Linked DNA regions of Homo sapiens. The protein of the gene in region 1 interacts with the protein of each later gene in a pairwise test. Each region holds a gene or a part of one and is shown in the gene's direction. Other genes may lie near its edges.

The links. Proteins that work in one complex are often made in the same cells at the same time.
Region 2: the proteins of TRIM62 (region 1) and SP7 interact in binary tests that used the Homo sapiens proteins (3 or more experiments, as listed by UniProt).
Region 3: the proteins of TRIM62 (region 1) and GLRX interact in binary tests that used the Homo sapiens proteins (3 or more experiments, as listed by UniProt).

What each region holds. Positions count from the first base shown.
Region 1 is NC_000001.11:33,158,012-33,165,049, reverse strand, and holds part of TRIM62 (E3 ubiquitin-protein ligase TRIM62), read left to right. Parts: exon of another isoform or gene 1-4,084; coding exon of another isoform or gene 4,085-4,198; intron 4,199-5,105; coding exon 5,106-5,362; intron 5,363-6,681; coding exon 6,682-6,797; intron 6,798-7,038. UniProt on the Homo sapiens protein: E3 ubiquitin ligase that plays a role in antifungal immunity by mediating 'Lys-27'-linked ubiquitination of CARD9 downstream of C-type lectin receptors; leading to CARD9 activation, followed by activation of NF-kappa-B and MAP kinase p38 pathways.
Region 2 is NC_000012.12:53,326,354-53,333,391, reverse strand, and holds the end of SP7 (transcription factor Sp7), read left to right. Parts: intron 1-3,971; coding exon 3,972-5,246; 3' UTR 5,247-6,817; downstream 6,818-7,038. UniProt on the Homo sapiens protein: Transcriptional activator essential for osteoblast differentiation. Binds to SP1 and EKLF consensus sequences and to other G/C-rich sequences.
Region 3 is NC_000005.10:95,813,348-95,819,763, reverse strand, and holds the end of GLRX (glutaredoxin-1), read left to right. Parts: intron 1-3,137; coding exon 3,138-3,251; 3' UTR 3,252-3,257; exon of another isoform or gene 3,258-3,268; intron 3,269-4,806; exon of another isoform or gene 4,807-5,374; 3' UTR 5,375-5,915; downstream 5,916-6,416. UniProt on the Homo sapiens protein: Has a glutathione-disulfide oxidoreductase activity in the presence of NADPH and glutathione reductase. Reduces low molecular weight disulfides and proteins.

The sequences.
Region 1 (7,038 bases):
GAGGCCGAGGCAAGATGATGGCTTGAGCCCAGGAGTTTGAGACCAGCCTGGCCAATATAACGAGATGCCTTCTCTACAAAAAAAAAAAAAAAAATTGAATATAGCCAGGCGTAGTGGCACATGCCTGTAGTCCCAGCTACTCTGGAGACTGAGACAGATGGGAAGATTGCCTGAGCCCAGGAGTTTGAGGCTGCAGTAGGCCATGATCATGCCACTGCACTCCAGCCTGGGTGACAGAGTGATACCCTGTCTCTAAAATGAATGAATGAATGAATGAATGAATAAGCCCATTGCCTAGGAGTCAATCCTGAGCATGTCCCCTCGAAGCCCTCCAGAGGTGGCCCAGCCCTGGTATCATCTCCCCTTAAGCTCAGGCCATGGGATACAGACTCTGAAAGGTAGGGCCAAACTCTGCAGTCTCTGGCTACCGTGGTTTGGGAAACAAACAAACAAACAAACAAACAGACTTTTCCACTGACTTGAGAAGGACATGGGTTCTGATCCCACCACTAACTCACTGTGTGACTTTGGGTAAATTGCATGCTTTCCTGGGTCCCCAGCCTTCCCATCTGTCCAGTGGGGACTGCCAGGCTCAGTCCAGCACTCTGGGACTGGAAGGTGCCGGGTGGAGTCCCCACTATACAGAGTGACTCTGTGTCGTGAGGCCTGGGGTGATTTCAGGCTGACCCCGCTCTGTCAGCAGGAGCTGCGGCAGAGCCTTAGGAATGCGCTGGGCCTCTGGAGGTCATCCTGGGGCCTGAAGACACCATTGGAAACCCAGATCTATGCCCCAGCTTGGCCACCAACCCACTGTGGGGTCTCAGGAAGGTCATGACAAACAATTCTTCACAGAACATTCCAGAGTGCCTCTGGGCAGGACCCTCGGGGGCAACAGATGATAAACAGTCACAGGATGCTGGCCTCATTGCTTCTTGCAGCCTCAGTTTCCCCAACTGTCTGGTGATTCTGTACCTCTTGGATGATGAGAAGCAAATGGAAGCCTCTCTCTGTATGAGAGCGGAGTATTATGGGCTGTTCCTTCTCCCCAGCAGCACTCTCTTCTCTCCACATCCCACACCCTCTTTGTTTTTCTCCACTGACCTCTTCCTCCCCCGCTTTCCTGTCCATCTGTCTGCCTCTGGGGGGTCCTGTGGGGCCACATCCCCCTCGAGTTCCCCCAGCCCCACTTCCTGTCTGGACTGGGGTGTTTATACAAGAAATGCCTATGGATGCTTTGGAGGTCATATTTCACCTGGTGCCTGACTCGGCTTTCCTGCTGCGCCTGCCCCTCCAATGGCCTGGCCTGAGGGCCTGTCTGATCTCCCTCCTCAGGCCCTCTGTTTTCCTTGGTCGGCGCCCTGGCGGGGTGATGCATTCTTGGCAGGGTGTTTTTCTGAAAGGGCCCCAGCACCTCCAGGCCCTAGGGTGTTCCAAGGGATGTGGTGGGTTGGGGTGGGGGCTGTTTCCCCAGCCACAGAGCTGAAAGGAGGGGGTTGGGGAAAGGGTGACTCTGCCCTGGAAAGAACTAGAATAAATGGGGTGCACCAGTTGAGCAGAACTTTTCTCTGTGCTGAGAATTGTGTTCCTCTTCATTATCCTGCCAACCTCACAGAATGTCACCTCCACGAGAGCAGGATTCCCTAAAACCTAGCACAGTGTCTGGCACACAATAAGTAGTTATAAAAAAAGTGATTGAAAGGAAAAAAAAATCGGCCAGGCACAGTGGCTCACGCCTGTAATCCTAGCACTTTGGGAGGCTGAGGCGGGCGGATCACCTGAGGTCAGGAGTTCAAGACCAGCCTGGCCAATATGGTGAAACCCCGTCTCTACTAAAAATACAAAAACTAGCTGGGCATGGTGGTGGGTGCCTGTAATCCCAGCTACTCAAGAGGCTGAGGCAGGAGAATTGCTTGAACCCAGGAGGTGGAGGTTGTAGTGAGCCAATATCGAGCCACTGCACCCCAGCCTGGGCAACAAGAGTGAGACTCCATCTCAAAAAAATAAAAAACAACAAAAACAAAAACCAAAAAAACAGGAAAGAAAAAAAATCGTCCCAGGTAGGAACTGTTGTTATCTCAATCTTATCAGTGAGGCAACTGAGGCACAGAGAGGTTGAGGGACCAACCTGAAGTCCCACAGCTAGAAAATGGCAACTTGGGAGCTTACCATCCAGTCCTGTCAGAGCCCAGTGCATAGTGCAGCTGGGATGTCTCCTGGGGTGTCCTGCAAGAGCTATGGCTTTGTAGTCAGCAAGCCAGGTAGGTCAGTAGGACTCATCGGGAATGTACTTGGGGCTCCAGGGGTGGCTGTCACTCTGATGTTCCACTGCTGGCTGCCCTGTCCCTGCCTTCCCCCCTTTCCCTCCCATCCTCTCTCGTCCTTGAGACATTGAAACCCCAGCCTGGAAAGAAGCTGGAGCCTGCACCCAGCTCTACGGAGCAATCTCAGACAAGACTCTTCCCTCCTTCACCCCTCAAGCAACTCCTGATTGCCAGCCTTGTACCAGGCTCTGGGATGGGCACAGGGGTGCAGAGCCGAGGGAGATGTCATTCCTACCCAGCAGGGGCCCACTTACTAGCCAGGGAGACAGAAAATGTGGGACAATGTATTAAGACTGTTGACAAAAGGCTCTGGGAACATCCAAGTGCCTGAAAGAGAGGAAAGTTATCTCTGAAGAGGTCACTTTCAAGCTAGGTCTTGCAGGATGAGTAGGAGTTTGCCAGTTGAATACAGGGTTTGGGTAGGGTCATTCTAGGCAGGTGGAGTTGCAATGCAGTGGCGCTAGGGAGGTAAGCTAGGGTTAAATTGAGAAGGTCCTTGAATGCCAGACTAAAGAGTTCAGCATTTTACTATGTGTCAAGGAGCTAAAGAAGGTTCCTAAACTCAGGATCATCTGTGATTCAGTTGGCACTTTAGAAGGATCACTCTGACAGTGAGTTTGCTGGCAAAGACAAGAGTTGACTTGTAGACCAAGTGAGTTGGAAAGACCTGTGGGACCCCAGAGGGATGTGTTGGGGAGACTGTTGGAAAAATGGGTGTGGCACTCAGGAGACAGGCAAGGCCATCTATATGGACTTGGGAACCATCCTTAAAGCAGTTCAAGTTGAAAATGGGGGCAGGTGTTCAGGGTGAGGATGGAAGGCGCTGACCTGGATGAGCCCCGAGGAACATGGGAGGCAGAGAGGCAGCAGTCACAGAGATGGGAGGCAAAGCAGAACTTTCAACTAGGAGAGGGTGGCGAGTGGGCTAAGTGCTGCAGAGTGGTCTAGGAGGAGCCAGAGGAGTAGCTGCGGAGTCTGGGCGCCTGTGGAGGGCAGCTCCAGGTGGTGCAGGGACGACGGACCCCATCTTCCCCATCAGCAACATGCCGCTGCAGAGGCCTCCACCCTCCCCGGGTGAGGGGGCTCAGGAAGGCCACGGCAGCCTGGCCGTGCATCCCCAGACTCTCGTCCGCCCCCCTTTGTCTGCCTGGCGTTCTGGGTGGGCATGCGCAGCGAGGCTGGCCCACCGCCAGCAGTTCTTCCTGCAGGCCAGCAGCCGCGCGTCGGGGAGGGAACAGGCCCTAATTGAGCCTTTGTAGAGCCTCCCACAGAGCCCTGGGCACTGAACACAGTGGGGTTTCTGACTCCATGAACTCCCAGCCAGAATCCCACAAAGTAAAATTGCAGAGGCAGGCCCCACATGCTGCTGCAGCCTGGCCGCACTTCTATAGCCCGTGTCGTCCTGACGTTAAGCCCTTCCTCATGCGGCTCCCTCTGCCTGTTCCCCTGACCCCCAACTGACATCCTGCCCATCCCTCAGGCCCCGGCTCAGAACCCGTCTCTCAATGAAGACTTCCGGGAAACGCTTATTAGAATTGCAGTCTTCAATAACCAGGCTCTTTCTCTGCGCCTTGGAGTGCGCACAACAACACCCCCTCATTTCATCTTCACCACAATCCTACAATGCAGTTTTTGTTACTCCTTTCACAGATAAGAAAACTAAGGTTCACAGCTCTTAGGCAACTGACGTTGCCATAGCTAGAGACCCAGAGCTAGAGTCCTTACGCAGACTGTCAGGCACCAAACCTGTGCCCTTCACTACTTCACCCTTCCTGAGCCTCACAGTGCCCTTGGGGGCAGAGAAAACCATGAAAGTTCATGCTTACCTCCCTGATCCTGTCTATAAACACCAGTCCTTGCTCCTTAGCCAGAGGGTCCTAGAGGTAACAGGAGACAGCGAGTAACCACCAAGGTTTTCTCAATACGTTGCAATTTACAAAGCTCTTTGATGTCTGTGATCTTGTCATCTTTCCTTGAGCCCCCTGAATGAGCCCCATGAATGATTTTTTTAAAATAAAGACTTCAGCCGGGCACGATGGCTCACGCCTGTAATCCCAGCACTTTGGGAGGCCAAGGTGGGCAGATCACCTAACGTCAGGTGTTTGAGACCAGCCTGGCCAACATGGTGAAACCCCATCTCTACTAAAAATACAAAAATTATCCGGGCATAGTGGCGGGCTCCTGTAATCCCAGCTACTAGGGAGGCTGAGGCTGGAGAATCGCCTGAACCCAGGAGGTGGAGGTTGCAATGATCCGAGATCGTGCCATCACACTCCAGCCTGGGTGACAGGAGCAAAACTCCATCTCAAAAAACTAATAATAATAAAAGCAAAAAAAATAAAGACTTCACTATGTCCTTGAGAGAACATCTTCACCCTGTCCCCTAGCCCTCACTCCAGCTCCCTCATCCCTCCTACCCCCAAGCCAGAAACCTGGGCATTATCCCCAGCTCCTTTCTCTTCTGTACCCCTCTAGCCAACACAGCAGGGTCAAAGAGGCTGCCCTCTAGATGTTTCTCAAACCGTGTTCCTCACCATTGCTGCTGCTCCTCTAGTTCAGGCCTCATTTTCTCACCTGGGCCATTTCATTAGCTATTTAATGGACCACATAGAACATGCCCATCCTTTCCTACCACCATGCTTTTGCATGTGACATTTCCCCCACCACGCGTGCCCTTTCCCACCCTTTCCTCTCTGTGTGTCAAGGCTCTCGATTTCCTCCTCTCACCCAGAGATCACCCCATCTGCTCCCCCAGCCATAACCCCTGACGACTGTCCCCCACAGTCTTCCACCAAGAGCCTGCGGACCACTATCGGCGAGGCCTTCGAGCGGCTGCACCGGCTGCTGCGTGAACGCCAGAAGGCCATGCTAGAGGAGCTGGAGGCGGACACGGCCCGCACGCTGACCGACATCGAGCAGAAAGTCCAGCGCTACAGCCAGCAGCTGCGCAAGGTCCAGGAGGGAGCCCAGATCCTGCAGGAGCGGCTGGCTGAAACCGACCGGCACACCTTCCTGGCTGGGGTGGCCTCACTGTCCGAGCGGTAAGTGCCACCCGCCGGGGCCCTCCCCGGCTGACCATCCCCTCCTCGACCCATGCTGGGCAGTGGGAGTGGAGGCAGATGGGATCCTTAGCAGAGAATTCTTTCATTCAAATCTTCATCAAACATTTACGGGACATCTGCTATGGGTAGGAGCATGAAGCCTTGAGTATGAAGCCAGTGAGGCTTGAACTAGAGGAGCAGCAGCAATGGTGAGGAACACAGTTTGAAAACCATCTAGAGGGCAGCCACTTTGACCCTGCTGTCTTGGCTCTAGGGGTGCAGGAGAGAAAGGATCTGGGAATAAAGACTTCATATATTTACATTATTATATATGTAATATATTCTGTATACATTATAGATAGTAGGTAGCATTTAATAGTGTTTACAATCATAATATAAATATATTACATATTATTTTATTTATGATAATGTTGGCATTACGTGTTACTATATAAAGGCTTTATATTACTGTAACCCTCTCAGTCCCTTTGAAAGTAGTTACCACTGTCATCATCATTTCATGCATGTAGAAACTGAGGCTCCTGCTGGGCACGGTGGCTCACACCTGTAATCCCAGCACTTTGGGAGGCCGAGGCAGGTGGATTACCTGAGGTCAGGAGTTCAGGACCAGCCTGACTAACATGGTGAAACCCCGTCTCTACTAAAAAAAAATACAAAAATTAGCCGGGCGTGGTGGCAGGCACCTGTAGTCCCAGCTATTCAGGAGGCTGAGGCAGGAGAATTGCTTGAACCCAGGAGGCAGAGGTTGCAGTGAGCTGAGATCGCGCCATTGCACTTCAGCCTGGGCAATAAGAGCGAAACTCTGTCTCAAAAAAAAAAAGAAAAAAAAGAAAAAAACTGAGGCTCTGAAAAGCTACATCAGTTGGCCAAGGCCCCCCATCTGGTAACTGGTAAGCCAGGATTCAAGCCTAGGTCTCTGTGACCCCAAATCTTCCCTTAGTAGTAATAACACTTAGTCATTGGTTTGTTGGTGATCAATACTGATTGCTAAGATCATGAATTTGGCATTGACCGTGACCGAGCACTGTGCTGAGCATCTGTATATGTTATGCCATGTAATTCTCACAAAAAGCCTAGAAGGCTGATGCTAGCATAGCACCCATTTTAAAGATGAGAAGACTGAGGGAATGGTTAGAGAGGCCAGAAGCAGCACAAGCAGGCACTTGAATCTGAGTCCCACAGACTTCTCACTCATGACCACATCCTATGCCAGCTGCCCTGAAGGTGGCTGCGGGGCCCCTGGCATTGGGGCAGGAATCCAGTCCCTGGTGCAGCCCCCTTTCCTGCTCTCCTTCCAGGCTCAAGGGAAAAATCCATGAGACCAACCTCACATATGAAGACTTCCCGACCTCCAAGTACACAGGCCCCCTGCAGTACACCATCTGGAAGTCCCTGTTCCAGGACATCCACCCAGGTAAGGCATGGGTTATCATGGTCCAGAGCTAGGTGGGGCATGTCCCAGCACAGCCCAGCCCCCTGTCCTAAACACAGCATGGGGCAGTTGGGGTGAATGAGCAGAGTGCCTTGCTGAGCACCTAGTGTGTTCCAGGACCTGTCCTGGGCACCTGCACAATCACTCAGCTCAGTGGACCTTCATAACACCCCAGGAGATGGCTGGGCGTGGTGGCTCACACCTGTAATCCCAGCACTTTGGG
Region 2 (7,038 bases), on another chromosome or scaffold:
AACACTCCCACTTCAATACTTTAATTCTGTTTGTCTTGTTTTGTTTTGTTTTAAGGGTGGTGGGGTGGAGGTCGGGAGGGAACAACTCGAAGGTGGGACTGCTGGGCCCTGGAAAGGGAACACATTTGATCAGGTATGGGGACACATGTTTAGAACTCTTAACCAGTGCTCTTTCCCCAAGTTCTCAGGAGAGAACAATCAGCAAGAGAAGGAAACTGAGGCTGTGGTGAAACTTAGCCACGTGCTCAGCCTGTAGCCCCCAGAGCATTCTGAGTGGGTCTGGTTCCTCGCTCCCCATTCCCTGCCCTCGAGGGCCCTCTGGGCCTCCACTCCCCAGGGCTGGGGTCTCCTGTTGGCCTGGGGCTGGCTGCCTTCTTTCACCCCTCCTTCCCTCCCCACAGCTGGGTGGGGTCCCTGGGCTTGGCTGAGGCCCCTGTGGCCGCAGTGTGAGGGCCGGGCGGGGGACGGCGTCGGCGTTTTTAAAAATAAACCGACCGCAGGGAAACCATCGGAGCCGGGCTGGGCAGAGGGAGAGGGGGCGGTCAGGGGGGAGAAGAAGGGAGGAGTGGCCTGGTCTGGGGGTTTTCTGGGGCCCAGCACCATGGTGGTTTTCTCTTAGGTAGGAAGGCCGCCTTCTTCCTCCTCCTCCCCCTTTTCTTTTTTCCACTCCTTTCTTTTCTTCTCTGCTTTCCTTTGCTTTTCTAGCCCAGTCTCTTTTCCATCATCTCTCCTTCTTAGTTTGTGTCTTTTTACCTTTCTGGTCTTTTAGGTCCCTGCCTATTTCTGCTTCTTTTTTGTTGTTGCTGTTGTTTTTGAGACAGGGTCTTGCTGTGTTGCCCAGGCTGCAGTGCAGTGGCACAATCATAGCTCACTGCAGCCTCTAACTACTTAGCTCAAGTGAGCTTCCCATCTCAGCCTCCTGAGGAGCTAGGACTACAGGCATGCACCACCAAGCCCAGCTAATTTTAAAATCTGTTATAGAAATGGGGTTTCACTATGTTGCCCAGGCTGGTCTCAAACTGCTGGCCTCAAGCAACCCTCCCCCACTTGGCCTCCCAAAGTGCTGGAATTATAGCTATTTCTGCTATTCAATGCCAATTTTTCCTCTCAGGTCCTCCTTCCCCCATTGCTATGGGTCTTTTTTGTCAATCCCTTACCCTATGCAGGTCCTTTGTGCCCCATATCTCTGGGTATCTGCCTCTCTGCTTTGAACTCCATGTTTCTACCTCTTCTTTCTGCTAGGATTTGACTCCTCCCCATCAGCTACCCTGCCATAGCTCACCCGCTGCTTGGAAGATCAGGGGTTCCCGGGAAACCCTGACTGGGGGAACCGTGAGTGTTCACTGTGGTTAGACTGGAGAAAACTTTTGGTGGCTCAGTTTGGGAGTCAACGGGACCTTAGAGAGAGGCAACTGTGCAGGAAGAGCAGCAGGTTTGCACTTGGGGTGTAGCGCAGAAGTGGGGACTGCACACATGCCTCATGGCAACCCCAGGGCCCCAGGCCCACCTCTCGGATTGGCATCGTACACATACTACATGCTAAGAGCTACCAGACAGGTGTGAGAACTCTGGATTCTTGAGTTCTTTTCTCAGCCTTACTGGGAAAGGATCAGGCCCATATGAGTTTATGAAGAACCCAATCCTCAAAACTGTTCTTCTAGCCCTTTCATACCCATATAACTGTATAGGGGTAGATTTTGAGGGCATCTTTTTTGGTGGGATTCCCAGCAATGAATGACCGTCTATGCCAGCCAGGGATGCTATAGGGCATTTCCTCCTTGGATGCCTCACCCAGGGAGAGGCACCATCAGGAACCATGAGTTCCTGAGAGGTAAAGATCTTGAGAGTGGTTTGGCCTGGTAGCAGCAGCATGGTGGGCATTAAGAAGATACCTTTGCCTTTCTTTTTTTTTTTTTTTTTTGAGATGGAGTCTTGCTCTGTAGCCTAGGCTGGAGTGCAGTGGCACCTTCTTGGCTCACTGCAACCTCCACCTCCCAGGTTCAAGCAATTCTCTGCCTCAGCCTCCCGAATAGCTGGGATTACAGGCGCCTGCCACCACACCCAGATAATTTTTTTATATTTTTAGTAGAGATGGGGTTTCACCATCTTGGCCAGGCTGGTTTTGAACTCCTGATCTAGTGATCCACCCACCTTAGCTTCCCAAAGTGCTGGGATTACAGGCGTGAGCCACCGCGCCTGGCTAGAAGATACCCTTGCATTTCTAAAAGACTCCCATATACTACATCCATGTCTTCCTTCATTCACAGTGCTAGAAGGACTACATGTTAGGGGACACTGAGGCATGAAGCAGTGTGGCTGTGGGCCAGTATCTTAGTTACCCCATTCCTTGCCTTGGAAGGGCATGACGACTTTGGGCTCTTACAGCCCTCTCAAAGGGGTACCAGCTGGCACCACAAAGCAGGAGGTGCTCACTGCCTGCTTGAAAGGCATTCTTGTCTCAGCCACAGTTTGGGCTTGGCGGCAGCCCTGTTCCCTCTCAATGTCCCAGTGTCTCCACCATCACTTCCTCTTGCTCTCCAGCCGGAGTCTCTGCCAAGAGATTCCTTAGCAGGGACATGAGGATTGGACCTCAGGGAGACAAGACCACTGCCTTAGTCAGGAGCTGAAGCAGCGACAGGAAATGGAATATCGGGTATGGGATGAAGCTGGGAAAATCTGTCATGGGAGCAAATATAGTCCCCTAATACTTTGACCTTCTCCCTACACTGCACTTTGAGCCTCATCTTTCCTCTCCAAGGCCCTGCCCATGGCCTCGATCTGCTCCAAACCTACTTCCAAGGGTCAGGATCCCCAATTCTCACTTCACCTAGCTGCTGTCTCTATCCCCAGTTCTTCTCACAGCCATTTAAAAAGAGCCCCTGGTGTGTGCCTGTAGTCCTAACTACTCTGGAGGCTGAGGGTGGAGGATCGCTTGGAGCCCAGAAAGAAGTTTGAGGCTACAGTGAGCTGTGATGGTGCTACTGCACTCCATCCAGCTTGGGAGACAGAGTGAGACCCTGTCTCTAAAAATATTTTTTTGGCTGGGTGCGGTGGCTCACACCTGTAATCTCAACACTTTGGGAGGTTGAGGTCAGGAGTTTTGGGTCACTTGAGGTCATCAGTTCAAGACCAGCCTGGCCAACATGGTGAAACTGCGTCTGTACTAAAAATACAAAATAGCTCAATGTGGTGGCGTGCGGCTGTAATCCCAGCTATGTGGGAGGCTGAGGCAGGAGAATTGCTTGAACCTGGGAGGCAAAGTTTGCAGTGAGCCGAGATTGGGCCACTGCATTCCAGCCTGGGTGACAGAACAAGACTTTGTCTCAAAAAATAATTTTTTTTTTAAATAAAAAGAAAAGGCCGGGCGCAGTGGCTCATGCCTGTAATTCCAGCACTTTGGGAGGCCGAGGTGGGCGGATCACCTGAGGTCAGGAGTTTGAGACCAGTCTGGTCAACATGGCAAAACCCTGTTTCTACTAAAAATACAAAAAAATTAGCCAGGTGTGGTGGTGGGTGCCTGTAATCCCAACTCCTCCGGAGGCTGAGGCAGGGGAATCTCTTGAACCCGGGAGGCGGAGGTTGCAGTGAGCCGAGGTCACACCATTGCACTCCAACCTGGGCGACAACAGCGAGACTCCATCTCAAAAAAAAAGAAAAAGAACCTCCTGTTCCTTGGAGGCCCCTAGTACACCCCTAGCAACTCCAGAATGAGCTCTGCTTCCTGCCTTCTGGGTTGGGATACTGAGCTGCAGTCTTGGGCCTCTGTTCTTCTTCCCACGACTCCATGAGTCTGCCCTGAGGTCCAGCCCTCACTGGCTAACCTCTTTTACCTGTAATTCTCCACCCTCTTCAACTCTTCCCTGACCCCTCTGTTCTGTTGTGGATGTCTCTAGGTCTCAGTCCTAAAGTGTTGCCCTTCATTTTGTACCTCTCCTCCCCTCTCCCTAAGCAGTGCGTCCCTCTTTCCACAGGAGGAAGTTCACTATGGCTCCAGTCCCCTGGCCATGCTGACGGCAGCGTGCAGCAAATTTGGTGGCTCTAGCCCTCTGCGGGACTCAACAACTCTGGGCAAAGCAGGCACAAAGAAGCCGTACTCTGTGGGCAGTGACCTTTCAGCCTCCAAAACCATGGGGGATGCTTATCCAGCCCCCTTTACAAGCACTAATGGGCTCCTTTCACCTGCAGGCAGTCCTCCAGCACCCACCTCAGGCTATGCTAATGATTACCCTCCCTTTTCCCACTCATTCCCTGGGCCCACAGGCACCCAGGACCCTGGGCTACTAGTGCCCAAGGGGCACAGCTCTTCTGACTGTCTGCCCAGTGTCTACACCTCTCTGGACATGACACACCCCTATGGCTCCTGGTACAAGGCAGGCATCCATGCAGGCATTTCACCAGGCCCAGGCAACACTCCTACTCCATGGTGGGATATGCACCCTGGAGGCAACTGGCTAGGTGGTGGGCAGGGCCAGGGTGATGGGCTGCAAGGGACACTGCCCACAGGTCCAGCTCAGCCTCCACTGAACCCCCAGCTGCCCACCTACCCATCTGACTTTGCTCCCCTTAATCCAGCCCCCTACCCAGCTCCCCACCTCTTGCAACCAGGGCCCCAGCATGTCTTGCCCCAAGATGTCTATAAACCCAAGGCAGTGGGAAATAGTGGGCAGCTAGAAGGGAGTGGTGGAGCCAAACCCCCACGGGGTGCAAGCACTGGGGGTAGTGGTGGATATGGGGGCAGTGGGGCAGGGCGCTCCTCCTGCGACTGCCCTAATTGCCAGGAGCTAGAGCGGCTGGGAGCAGCAGCGGCTGGGCTGCGGAAGAAGCCCATCCACAGCTGCCACATCCCTGGCTGCGGCAAGGTGTATGGCAAGGCTTCGCACCTGAAGGCCCACTTGCGCTGGCACACAGGCGAGAGGCCCTTCGTCTGCAACTGGCTCTTCTGCGGCAAGAGGTTCACTCGTTCGGATGAGCTGGAGCGTCATGTGCGCACTCACACCCGGGAGAAGAAGTTCACCTGCCTGCTCTGCTCCAAGCGCTTTACCCGAAGCGACCACCTGAGCAAACACCAGCGCACCCATGGAGAACCAGGCCCGGGTCCCCCTCCCAGTGGCCCCAAGGAGCTGGGGGAGGGCCGCAGCACGGGGGAAGAGGAGGCCAGTCAGACGCCCCGACCTTCTGCCTCGCCAGCAACCCCAGAGAAAGCCCCTGGAGGCAGCCCTGAGCAGAGCAACTTGCTGGAGATCTGAGCCGGGTGGAAGGTCTCCCACCCCAGGGCTGCCCTGACAGTCTCTCTTGGCTCTCTAGACCACTGCTTGCCAATCACTCTCTTTACCCCATGCATGCCATCCTTCGGGGCTCTCTCCCTCTGTCTCCCTCCTGGCCATTCTGGGCTTGGGTATCTCCTTGCATGCCTCCTCAGCTCACCTTCTCTCTTCACCATGAGACTGGCTTTCCACAAACTCTCATCTCAGGCCCTCCCCTTGTGCCTGATACCTGCACTCCGGCTTCCTAGACTCTGGCCCTGCCACACCAACACACTTTCTATTTGGGCTCCCAACACTATTTCTCCATCTCACTCCTTGACATGTACCCCTTTCTGCTTCTCAAGCTTATTTCCTGCTGTCCCTCAGCCTCCAGGCTTCAGTCTTCCCAACTTCTTACACCATTGCTTTCCATTCTCCAGAACTCTTTTTTCCTTTTTACAAACACAATGATAATGATAATTTATTGCCCCCTGGTGGCCTCTTCATCAGGGGTATTGGGGTTAGTGACCTGGCCAGAGGGTGCCAAGAGGGGGGCAGACCAGTGGGGATCTGATCCCAAAGATGGGGTGACCCCAGGGTCAGGGAGGCTGCCCCCAGGCCTGTATATTTAACCCCTATGTACCAGGAGTAATGAATAGTAATAATTCTATTTATGTAAGTTATGATGACGGGTCAGGTAGAGTGAGCTGGGGAGGGAAGTGGATCCATTTCTGCTAAGGAAATTCTAGTCAAATGCATCTCTGTATAGACAAAATGTTAGTGGAGAAGATCTTGTTAATAGAATGTCTATCATCAGAATCTCAGTTGATAGGGTTTCTCTTGTAATGAAGTCTCTACAAATTGGGTTAGCTACATCTCTGCTAAACAGTTGATGGGGTATCTCTTGATTAGGGGGATCCCTAATATCCCCAGCCCCAGCCAGAAGCTGTGAAACCTCAAGTCCTATGGAGGGGAGAAGGACTGGAATGTACCCCATCTCCCTTGACTGCAGAGCAGGTTCCTCCACTGCCCCACCCCTTAGACACCATGACCCCATCAGGTTAATCCCCTGTTGCCATGGTTATGGAGAGCTTGCAGCTGCCATCTTAGATGTGCTCTTTGGGGAAGCCCATCTAACAGGAGGACATTGGTTTGGGGGTGCACCTCCTGAAGAATGGGTGGGGAAGGCTTTCTCTAGGATCAGATTCAAATAAGTATGTATTGAGTGCCTACTCTGTGCAAGGCACTATGCTAGATCTGGTGCCTAGAAGCCCTGAGAAAGAACTTAAAGAGCTAGGAGGACAGAGGCCCCCAAGCTGATCTGGTGGTGCATCCACGCACCCCCACCCTGGGACTTTGGATGCTCCCATCTCCACCTCCAGTGACTTTTAAAGCCGCTTCGTGCCTTTCCTGTAACGTTGGATCCTCCTTTTCTGTCCCCTGCTGTCTCAAGGCCCCAAGTTAAAGGGTTAAAGCCGCTGGAGCTTGGGGAGAGAACATTGTGGAATGGAAGGGATCATGCCCTTTGTGGAGTCTTTTTTTTTTAATTTAATAAATAAAAGTTGGATTTGAAATTTTGTCCTGGTGAGAAAAGGAGAAGAGGAAGGGTGAAGCGAGGGCCAATGGTTTTTTTTCCTTAGCAAATTGGGGACTACTCATGGGCGAATATTCTATTGTGCACGTTTGCTCACCTATGCTCGCGGTAAAATAGTTTATCGGCCGGGCGTGGTGGCTCACACATGTAATCCCAGCACTTCGGGAAGCCCAGAAGGGCGGATCACCTGAGGTCAGGAGT
Region 3 (6,416 bases), on another chromosome or scaffold:
CCATGCCTGGCTAATTTTTTGTATGTTTAGTAGAGACGGGTTTTCACTGTGTTAGCCAGGATGGTCTCAATCTCCTGACCTCGTGATCCACCCGCCTCAGCCTCCCAAAGTGCTGGGATTACAGGCGTGAGCCACGGCGCCCGGCCTGATCCTGCAGTCTTAATTATTCTATAAAGTAGCTGTATCTAGTAGGTAATCAGCAGGACATGATTATGGAAAGTTAGTGGCTTCAATCAAGCCATGTACTTGGTAAAACCTGTTTTTGTTTTGCTATAGTCACAGCTCCTAAATTAGTGCCTTCATTTATTTCTCCTCTAATGCACTTTTCTTTACATAGATCTGAGTTTCTGAACTATATCATTTCCCTTCTCTCTGAAGAACTTCTTTGGGCATTTCTTGCAAGGTGATTCCATTGGTAACACATTCCCTCAAGTTTTGTTTACCTTAGAAAGTATTTCTCCTTCGCATTTGAATGATGATTTTACTGGATGCAACAAATATTTTTAAGCACCTACTATGTACCAGACACTTTTATGTACATTGGGGAAAAAATTCTGCCTTTTCTGCCATGAAAAAAACCCTTCTGCCTTTGTTGAACCTATATTCTAGTGGGGGAGACAAACAAATACAGTAATAAAACAGTATGTTGGGAGTTGGTAAGTGGCACGTGCTATGAGGAAAAGTAGGAAAGGTAGGGAGGAAGCATCAGGGTCCAGTTTTAAATGGAGCCATTGGGTCTCACTGAGAAGGGAACATTCGAGCAGATATCTATAGGAGCTGAGGGAGATGGGTGTACACAATTTACAGGTAGAGTGAATGCAAAGGTCCTGGGGTAGACGTTTGCCTGGCAGGTTTGTGGAATAGTAAGGAAGCCAGTATAGTTGCAGCACTGTGAGCCAGTAGGAGAGTTAGTGGAGGTGAGGTCTGAGAGCTAATAGGAGCTTGGAAGAACTGTGACTGGTACTCGGTGTGAGATGAGATGCCCCTGGTGGGTGCTGAGCAGACGAGTCACTTGATCTGACCCCATTTTGAAAGGGCCACTCTGGCAGCTGTGGGGAGAAGAGACAGTAGGGCAAAGGTGAAGGTTGAAGCTGGGAGACATTGGGAGGCTATAGTAGTTATTCAGGTGACAGATGAAGGTGGCTTATACCAGGGAGGTAGCCGAGGAGTGTTGAGAAATTGCTTTTGAGTAGTTGCATTTGTGTAACCCTAGCTAGCGTACAGGAGATGTTGCCTGGCTGAGGCTGGGGAAACCTAGTGCAGGAGAATAAGAACCACAGGATTACCAAACTCGTTTTGGGGTGGCAGTTCTTTCCTCTCCTTGACAGTAGCGGACTCTCAAGTTCCTCTAAAGAGGAGGCTGGGACGGGAAGGGACAGGAGGGGAAGCAGCACAGGGTATTTCCTCTTCTTTGCTCAACTTTATCAACAGTACTTCTTGCTTTGGTTTCACTGCCACAGCACCCCCGTGCCGTCTGTACAGCCTGCCATTCAGCTCCCGTTAGGGGTACCATTCACTGATACGATTTATGGCAGTTTTGCAGTTGTCCAGACTAGAGGATGGGTGTGAGGGTAAAGGAGCCTTTCGCTTCTTTGCCAGACACTGAGCACAAAACTCCACGCTGGGAGCAGCCTGGTCACATTTCAGGGTCATCTCAGGAGGCTGGGGGGCAGCTCCAGGGCTGTGGGTTTTCAAAGCCTCAGTTATCCTGTGAGAGCACAGGGAATAGCCATGGAAATGTGCAAGATTTGTTTTTAATTTTTAGACTTTATTTTTAATGCCTACCTTCACCCAGACCCCCTTTTTAATAAAAGTGCTGTAAGAACTTATCCACAATAATGAAGCCCCTTTTCTCACCTTTCTCACTTTTTGGACAATTTGCTCCAATTATTATGCTTTCTGAGGAAAGCCCAAAGCTTTGAAAAATAGTCTCATTGCTTTCTGCCTCCACCTCTCCCTCCCCTCCAGTGCGTTCCTGGTACTCGGGGAGAGGCCCGCTGGCTCTGATGACGCGGTGACCTCCATGGGGCTTTTTTCTTCACTGCCAGGCAGCCTTGGTGGAACACTCCTGGCCTATAAATTCAGCCACGTTGAGGGTATTTCCTCCTCCCTCGCGATTCTAAAAGCCCTCTGGAATTCTGGAATGTGTCTGCTCCTAGCAGCAGGGAGGAAGTGTGTAACTAGAGAGGAGCCTATTCAGCAGGTGTCATGACTGTGGCTTGGCGTGGGTGACGCACCCTCATCCGGGGTGAGTTAACCATCTTATGATGGACCAGCGATTAAAGGAGACTCAAACACCACTACACCCCCCTGGTTGAGGACAGAGCTCACTTGTGTTGCTTTGTTTTGCTTTCTTTGTTTTGCTCTGTCGTCCAGGTGTGAGTGCAATGGCACCATCACAGCTTACTGCAGCCTCGACCTCCCGGGCCAAAGCAATCCTTCCACTTCAGCCTCCTGAGTAGCTGGGACTACAGGCATGCACCGCCATGCCTGGCTAATTTTTGTATTTTTTGTAGAGACGGGGTCTCACGATGTTACCTAGGCTAGTCTTGAACTCCTGGGCTCAAGCGACCCTCCCACCTCAGCCTCACAAAAGTAGTAGGATTACATTCATGAGCCACTGTGCCTGGCCCTCACCTGTGTTTTAACAACACAGAGAGATGATTGTACTTAATAAACCATGGACCTGAAAAATCAGAGACGTAATGCAAATACTTTTCCAGCTGTATTTAGAAACGAACTCCTTCCTTCCTGATTGCTGTGACCCAGTTTACAATCTTAGGTGTGGTCCCTGATGCAGAGAAAGCAGAGTTCAATCTAGGTGGTCTGACTGCAGCCAATCAGAATTCTCCTTCTGAAACATGTTTCTGTAGAGTGAAATTTTTAAATCCCTTTGACAAGTTGGACAAGCTCATGCATAGCACACAACTTGAAAACTCTTCTGGCGTAAAAACATTCTCGAGTTAATAATGTTACCCCTTATAACAGAAAGGAAGTCCTGTCCTGTGAGCATATACATAAGGAGGTTTTAAAGTGATTTGAAAAGTTTGGAATCACGGGAAATATTTAGTGGTAGGATAGAAATGTTCTGTCTAATCTAGTAATGTAGTAATGTCCTGGGTCGTGTGCTTTTTTAGGTGCCTCGAGTCTTTATTGGTAAAGATTGTATAGGCGGATGCAGTGATCTAGTCTCTTTGCAACAGAGTGGGGAACTGCTGACGCGGCTAAAGCAGATTGGAGCTCTGCAGTAACCACAGGTGAGTGGCAGGTGAGGTGCTGGGCCAGGAACATGGGAGACCGTGGAATTCTTCTGTCGTGGTTTGTTATACTGTATGACAGCATTCTGGTTGGGGGAAGAAATGATTTGGGGTGAGTTGAGGAATGGTGATGTCAATCACTTATGAATTTCACACTTTACAAAGAGATCGTGTCAATGAGAGAAATCCTTTCACTCAAGCTTCATTTAAGAAATATTTATTAAGCATGTGCCAGACACATGAGAATATAATGATGCATAAAATGATAACCTGGAACTTATATTTTAGAGAGGTAGACAGATCAAAAACAAGCAAATCCTGAAATAGAATAGAATAATGTGACAGAATATGTCATGGGGTGGGGAGAAAATTGAGCTAACATGGTAAGGGAGGGCCTTTCTCAGGAAGGGTTGAGCTGAGACCTGGTTAACAAGGGGACTGCTATGCAGAGATGAAGCAGAAGAGCTTTTCAGGCAGAGGGAATAGCAAGTGCAAAGGCTCTGAGGTGGCAACAGGTAAGGGATGTTCGTGGAACAGAAAGAAAGCAGGAATAGAGTGAATGAAGTGCAGTGAAAAGGAAGAATAGCGAGAAAGGTGGGCAGGGGCCAGAGCACCCAGGCCATGGTAAACAATTTGGATTTATTCAAAACGCAATGTGAAACACAGGTCATTTTGGCTTTACCTGTGTTCACTTGGCAAATCAACTCTATTTAATTGGCTTCCCAAAAGCCAAAACAAAGTTTTCTAAAATCAGTAACCTAAAGGAGATCTTTGGCTCTGTGGAAAACCACAGGGCGATGAACATTTCAGAAGGGAACCGTGATGGTTTTGGAGTCTGAGCTCCTCCCTCCCCCAGTTCCCCAGCACAGCTAGCGCTAGCTAGCTCCCAAGCAGGCCAATTCAGAGACCTGTACCCAGAGAGATGTAAATGCTGCTTTAGTTGAGGGAGAAATGAATGGTTCTTTAACCAAAATGTTCTTGGAGGGGTATCTATTGCCTGCTAATTAATAACTCATTTCTTGGGCAATGAGTATACATTATTTGTGATGGTTACTCAGCATAGCAACAGAAGGGGGAAAAAGGTCTGAAAAAATACCACTGATTTCTCTGAAATGAAATAGTCAATGCTATAAATCTTCTAATCAGAATTCTACGATATCATCACAGCAGGTGCACCCTATGTCTGTCTGAGTTCACTTCCTGGCCTTACCACTGGTACTAAAAGCACTCAAACCCAATTAATGGTTTCCTATTCTGGGACATGTTTAGCAATTTAGGCTTAGATTAAGAATGAGAGAAGATGGGAAATGTTATTTCTCCAACTGCTTCTATTTTGGTGTGGGCATTAGAGTCCCCCATATTCAGAAAGTCTCCTTATTTGCATTTGGCCTTTTCCTTCAGTGTTCTATGCTGTCAGTATTTTACTGGCAGCTGCATCTCAAGGCCATCTGCAACAGAGTGTGTTTAAATGGCAGGTGTAAGTGTTCTGGTAATGAGAGAAAGGAAGGATTTTGCCTTACAAGGAGATCCCTTCTTTCTTTCCTGGCAGAACAGGCCCCATGCTGACGTCCCTCCTCAAGAGCTGGATGGCATTGCAAATGATGACAGCACTTCTGGTGGATGAATTTGGGGGCACAAACAGCTTTTTTCCTCTTTTGGCTCAGTATTTAAAAGTGGACCAACTTGCTCTTAATCACAGGGCCAAGAAGGTTGACGGGCCATCTTGGTTTTCTTCTGGATGTGCTCTTTGGTTTTCAGAAGACTGTGACAAGTTCTGGCCCAGGATTCGCTCACTGACCCTCAATTGTCCTCTTTGGCATGCGTTTCTTACTGTTCTCCATGTGTCGGCATGTCTCTACCTCTAAGCCAGTGTTTTTCAACTATGTTTATCCAGACTCCTTCTCCACAATGATGAATCCACAGTTGGTTATCTGCTACTGCCCATTAGCTAAAATCATTTTGCTGCTTGACTTTATGGAGTTTGTATTATGAAATCAGTGGGTATTTTGAATGTGTTCTTTCTAACTACATGCATCTCTCCACTCAACTCCACCCCATCCCATCCCACCTTGAAAATCACTGCTCTGAACCAGTGTTCTCCACCTTGTCCTCCACAGATCTCATAGGAAATGTTCAACAATTCTGTGAAAGGTCACAGGACCCAATTGGAGAAATCATATGAAAAGCATAGTTGGTCTTGGTGTCATATGGATCAGAGGCACAAGTGCAGAGGCTGTGGTCATGCGGAACACTCTGTTATTTAAGATGGCTATCCAGATAATCCTGAACACTGTGTATTTATTTTATTTAGACTACCAGCAAAGATTAAAGCATGAAATGTAAAACATCTGATAAAACTTACAGCCCCCTACACCAAGAGTGTATCTGTGAAAGAGCTCCTACACTTTGAAAACTTAAGAATCCCTTATCATGAAGTTTGCCTGTTCTAGAATTGTAAGATTGTTAATTTCCTTCAATCTCTAGTGACAACACTTAATTTCTTTTCTAATAAAAAAAACCTATAGATGATTCAGTGATTTTTGTCCAATTCATTTGCATGTTCTCAAGACATTAAGGAATGTTATGCGAAATACACTAACTTAAAACTGTGTTTATATTTGGCCCTGCCATTATAAATAAAGACACGTGCTGCTGTCACTCACTGAGTACAAATGGCTGATATAATTTTGAAATTTCATATTGAAATAAATGCCAGCCCTGGCTTACTGAATAATGCTTAGGGTTTAATAACAGTCTTTTTCATTTCATATTCCTTTTTGCCATTTCCCACTTAAGGCCCTTGTACTTCTCGCTTCTTTCTTTTGTGGGCCCTAACCACTCCCTTCAACCAGGATTGCTATGATAATTGTTCAGTTTACACCAGGATTGCTATGGATAATTGTTCAGTTTACACACTGCACAATATGAAAGCCCTCCCACCGGAGGTTATAGTATCTGATCCACTCTGGACCACTTGCCTGCACTTTCACACTTCTTTGTCCATGTTCATTGTGTTTCTTTCTCCTGAGATGCCTTTTCTTCTTTGTTTTACTTTGAAACTCCTCCTCGTTCAAGGCCTGATTTACAGATCATTTCCCCTATATTTTCTCTCTCCTCTCATGGCCTTTTGACTGAAAAATCATCGTTCCCTCTTCTGGA